2 separate regions of the Homo sapiens genome follow, and region 2 is linked to region 1. The links come from fine-mapping of genetic effects on gene expression. A gene starts in region 1. The other region holds a variant in brackets. All regions are shown on one strand. Distances are between the middles of the regions. Region 1 holds the start of CD83 (CD83 molecule). Region 2 has its middle 26 kb from the start of CD83.

Region 1 (2,764 bases):
TTGGATGGACAAAGATAGAAAGGTTGGATAACAGTTTGTGTTGGCAAACAGGCACTCTCTTTGCAGATGGGAATATAGATTGAAGACACCTCCTTGCAGGTAATTTTTTGGCAATATTTGACAAAATTGGAAACTCCCCTTCACCTAGCACAATTTCCTTGAGGTATTTATTCTAAGAAAATAAGCAATTTTAGAGCAAAGATTTATCTACACTGAAGTTTCCCATAGCAATCACAGTATTGTTTCTAATATTAGTAATACAAAAAGAAACAACCTGTATGTCTAACACTAATCGATTCTAATTTATGGTGCAACTGAACAATGGACCAAAATGATGCTGTTGGAAGTTTTTAATGATGTGGAACCGCTTGCAAATTATTAAGCTAAAAGAAAGTAGGTTACAAGATAGCAGGAAGAATAAACCATTAAAAATACCAATCTGTGCACTGACAAATGTTATAAATATTTTACGTTATGTTATGTTATAAACATTTTATAATATAAAAAAATGTTAACTGAAGTTACTTCCTGGATGAATTACAGGTGATTTCATTGTCTTCTAGAATTTTCTTTTCCAAAAATGTTGTGTATGCGTGTAATTATTATTTTAATAGGAGACACTCTCCTTTGGTGATATAATTTAAACAGGACGGTACTGACTGATAACCTCCCGGGGAAGGCAGGGAGCCAAGTACTACAGACTTGTATGTTTCCATGGAAATCTAACGCGCCTTTGATTATCACAGATTCTGGAGAAGAGTGAGGACTTGGGTTCACCAGTGCGTTCCCAAGGACAGGCTGGGCTTCTGAGGAAGTTGCCCACCCTCTCGGAATCTGGTTTGGCCTCCGTAAAATGGGCAGATCCCGCTCGGATGGCCCGGTTCCCGGCTTCCTTTTGCGGGTCAACGGCAGCGTCACGCGCGCGAGCGCGGTCTGCAAAGCCCCCAGCGCTGGGCGTCACGCGGGGATTGCTGTCGCCGCTGCCAGCCGCAGCAGCGACGCGAACTCGGGGCGCCCGGCCCGGGCGCGCGGGGGCGGGGACGCGCACGCGGCGAGGGCGGCGGGTGCGACGGGGGCGGGGACGGGGGCGGGGACGGGGGCGAAGGGGGCGGGGACGGGGGCGCCCCGGCCTAAGCGGGACTAGGAGGGCGCGCCACCCGCTTCCGCTGCCCGCCGGGGAATCCCCCGGGCTGGCGCGCAGGGAAGTTCCCGAACGCGCGGGCATAAAAGGGCAGCCGGCGCCCGCGCGCCACAGCTCTGCAGCTCGTGGCAGCGGCGCAGCGCTCCAGCCATGTCGCGCGGCCTCCAGCTTCTGCTCCTGAGCTGCGGTAGGGCTCGCGAGCGCCTGTCTCGCCTGTCGCCCCCCGCCCCTCCACGACACCCCCTCCCGTCGGTCGCTTGCTCACGACGCGCTCTCTCTTTCTTGTAGCCTACAGCCTGGCTCCCGCGACGCCGGAGGTGAAGGTGGCTTGCTCCGAAGATGTGGACTTGCCCTGCACCGCCCCCTGGGATCCGCAGGTTCCCTACACGGTCTCCTGGGTCAAGGTAGGTGCTGCGATACCCACGGGCTGGGGTTTGGTGGGCTCATTTGAAGACAGCAGGAACCATCTCCCCTAGGCTGGCGACCCTCTGTGGCTGCCAGGTGGGGGCGAGGGGCGTCTCCCGCAGCTGAACTTGGAGTACCCAGCCTCCCGTCGCGCCTCCCCCACCCCATCCGCATCCAGGTACAGGGCCGAATTAGGTTTTGCTCTCCGCAGACCTCAATCCCCTTCCTGTCACTGAAGGTGGCCTGAGATGAATGATCCACTTAAGATGTTTTGGAAGGGCAGAGACTCTCATTTGGATTAATTCTGGAGGCCACCTGTGGTTGTGGGCCAGCAGGTCAGGAAGAAAGCAACAGGGACCTAGATTTGGGCATTGGACAGGGGGAATGTCTCCAGACTTCTGATTTCTTGTGTTTTGTGACTGTGATGCCCATGATACATGGGAGGGGGAGGGGGCAATTTGAAAGGAAAGGCTAAGACACAGAAGTGACTTAGGCCATTTCATCCATGGTAGTTATCAGTGGTCATCTCCTTTGTGGGATACCCTTGGCTTCCTCCCCTAGCCCTCCTCCTCCTTCCTCTGGCAGCCTTGAGAGCATCAGGTGGATGCATGAGCCGGAGCCCGCATGTGTAAGAACAGGCCTTGCTGCTCCTACTGTAAGTGGACTGAGTGACAAGGAGGCTTTTTCAAGGTTTCCTCTTGACTGAAACATTCTCAGATTCTAAGATGGCAATGATGGTGTCATTCCAAAGCCAAGCAGCTACTGTTTGATATCACTGGTCCTTCTTTAAGTCAGGCCACTGCTACCACAGCACCTCCATTTTAACCCAAATGAATATGATATTACAACCTTACTCTGTAGCTCTCACTGATTTGCTGTCTTACCACGGGGGCAAATCTCTGCACTTGTAGCTTTCCCCAAAATGCAGGGCGTTCTTCTGCCCACCATAAAAGATACTATAAGAAACTGTACGTCTTTGGCCACTTAACAGTACAAGGCATCATTGCGGTGATCTCTTTGTGTGTGTGTCTCCTAACTGGATGGTCAGTTCCCTGGGGGGCAGTGGCTGTATCCATACTTCTGTGTATTCTTCACGGCACCTAATTTTTGCCCTATAAATTGCAAAGGTGCTCTGTGAATTCAGCCCAGCACTTCATGAGTTATGCATGACGGGGATGGTGCTGCTGCCTCAGAGCATTGTATTGTGTATAAAAGTAA
Region 2 (3,029 bases), 26 kb before region 1:
ATTAACTCTCTTGATTCTTATCAGTCTCTTCTCTCAATCCGTGGAACTGTTTCTGGGTTCAACTGGGGTGATTTGGCTTTATGGAGTGTTCCCAAATGTGTGGTTTATGAGATAATTTTATGTCCTGATACCTTCATATTTATCGCAGGTGAGAAAGTTCATTTTGAGGCAGATGAAGTCACTCTCCAACCTTGACTTAGTGAAGAAGTGGAAAAAGGAGAATTTGTAGGATTCAAAAGCTGAAACTTTCTCCTCTAGGCTAAACTGGCTCTACAAAAAAAGCAAGTTTTAAGCAGAAAAGGGCAAAATAGGGATAGTTTTAGTTCGAGCTGCTATAACAGAAATACTAGAGACTGGGTGGCTTATAAATGACATCGTTGCTCACAGTTCTGGAGGCTGGGAAGTCCAAGATCAAGGTGCTGGCAAATTCAGTACCCGGTGAGGACCTTCTTCCAGGTTTATAGATGGCATCCTCTCACTATGTCCTCACATGGTAGAAGCAGCAAGAGTGTGCTCTCTGGCCTCTTTTAGAAGGGTATTGATCTCATTCATGAGGGCTTCCCCTTCATGACCTAATCGCTTCCCAAAGGCCCCACCTCCTAATACATATTGATACATGAATTTGGTGGCAAGGGGAGAGACACAAACTTTCAGTCCCTAACAGGGATCTTCTGGCATCTCAACCCTAGTAGGAAGATTGCAGTAACTTGTGTGGGACCAAATCGAGAATTTCTAACAGGATCTTCTGTTGGGTGTTGGGGAGATGGCCTCAGTTTGGGGGGCAAAGTGGAGATTGAGCATATTCAGCTCTTGTTTTTAAGACTACAGAACACATTCCAGATAGAGAGAGTTTGAGACAAAATCCACACCCACCCCGCTCCCAAAACTGGATCCACAGAGGTCCAACACAGTGGTGAGAGGCTACGCTGAACTCACTGACTGTGCAGCCTTGGAGTTTGGGAAACAGACTTAGGTTTCTGTGTGCCTAGAAAGCATGTATAAACAGTACGACCCCTCTCAGTTTCTGAAAAGATCTGATACATGTCAAACACCCATTCCATCATCTCTGGTCCTGCCTTAAGTAGTGCTTCTTCAATTTCAAGAGATGTTACTCCATAGCCGAGCATTGACTGGGTAATAAACTTTTGTGACTTGTAATAAAAGGTGTGTTCACACACACACA[C/T]ATGCAGGCGCACACACACGTTGTCTACATAAATGATTGACTTGGGCAAGGCATCTCATTCTCTTTATTTTCTGTTGGAACCACATAATTTTCTTTTCTCTCACTCTTGGTTTCTCTCTCATGTGTCATGCATTGTGGTGTTATAACTAAGTACTATTCTTGCTATTATCACCAAGGAATAGGGAATAGAAAATCAGGCTTTTTTTTTTTTTTGGTATAACTGTTCTCCTTTTTTCAGCCTCAATGCATTTTGAAAGAAGTTGGAAGTTAGAACACTTTCTGAAGTATGACTGTTTGCTTGTTACTTAGCTTGTCTGATCCTTGTAAAATAGGAATAATGGGAATATTGACTGGGGAGAAAAAGGGGAGATGCAAATCTGCACACGTGACATCATCCTATTTATGTTAAAATATATACATAGAGACTTACTAGCATAAAATATGCCAAGATATTCATGGTGGTTATCTCTGGGCTGTGAGATGATGGACAAATCTGAATTTCTTCCTTATATCACCCAGTTTGATTGCTCTTTTCACTAAATTTGTTCCCAAATGACTTTTTCTGTTTCCAAAATCGTATTCATTCCCAAAGGACAAAGAGTTGCTGCCTTTAATAATATATTTTTTTAAATGGCTTTGAAGGAAATCATAAAAAGATTTTCAGCACAGTTTTGACCACTGGCAATTCTTTGGAATAAATGAATAAGGTGGCTGATTTGAAGGAACAAGATTCACTTTGACGTATAATTTCTGGAATATTGCAAAATCAGTTGTGGTGCTTTGATAGCTATGCCCATACTTGGAAGGAAAGCAGGCTTATCCCATTGTTCTTTTGGTGTTTTTTTGAACTCCAGATCAATATAACATGCGATTGTAGTAATCTGACCAGTCATCTGGAAAGTTCCAGTATATGAAAAGTAGATTTGTATTTAAAAAAAAAAAAACACCCTTTCATTGAATGCTTTAATATAAAACAAACCTTCCTGACTTGTTTTATAAAAAGAGGAACTATACTACATTTGAAACTAAACTGTGGGAAAAAAAATGTGGTTCTGAAGAATATTCTCTGGTCTTAAATAGAGAATATGAAAATCAAATATGATCAGCTGTCATACACAAAAGTGTATTTTATTAATAAAAATGAAACAGAGCACTGTAAAATAGGAAGTAAACATTAGCTTTACACAAGGTTTTGCTTCATAGTCCTTTTAAACTTAATCTTCGCCAAAGGCTGAGAAGCGATTCACAGGCCTTTTAAATAGGTGGCTTCACTATCTCTCACTTATTTCTATTGATGTATTTTGGCTGGGAAAGAGAAATGCTTATATTCAATATCTATGGAATTGAGAATTTGAATATTATCTTTATCAAAAAAGATAAGGCATATGACATTGAGTATTAATAGATCAGAAATATTTATTTGATTGACAACTCAGTTACTTTTGCTTCTCCAATGGACACTCCATAAATATTCGAATGCGTCTTATGTCTACTGTGTGCATAGCCTTATGCTAATTCCATGAATGCAATGGTGATGTGTTTCCAGCTAACATCTGGAAGCCTTATTCTGCCAAAGATGAGAGATCACGGTACAGAATGTTCCTAATAAGAGTATTTTATTATCCATCCTGTACTCGCATGGTCCCTGTTCTCAATGACTTTATAGTCTTGTTGATAAGGTTTCAAACATGCAAGTATTGAGTAATATGTCAGACTGACTTCTAGAAAACGTTTTATTGACTATGATCAGGGGCCCAAATATAGGACACCAAAAAGAAGGATTTAGGGTGGACAAGTTGTAGAGAAGCTAAAGGAACCAAGGAAGGTGTCACAAAAGAGGTGGTTT

Evidence for each region.
Region 2: its variant is fine-mapped to the expression of CD83 in whole blood (TOPMed, PIP above 0.99).

Annotation. Positions count from the first base shown.
Region 1 is chr6:14,116,521-14,119,284 of GRCh38, forward strand. It overlaps CD83 (CD83 molecule), which reads left to right and starts at 1,252. Exons shown (of 5, transcript NM_004233.4): 1 at 1,252-1,328; 2 at 1,430-1,545. The coding sequence starts at 1,292. RefSeq lists silencers at 578-872, 1,000-1,119 and cis regulatory regions at 615-1,523, 863-1,679, 863-1,518, 1,684-2,184, 1,755-2,581 and 1 more.
Region 2 is chr6:14,090,268-14,093,296 of GRCh38, forward strand. No RefSeq gene overlaps it. Among named protein-coding and RNA genes, the nearest start is that of CD83, 26 kb to the right of the region's middle. The variant C/T (reference allele first, on the strand shown) is at 1,184.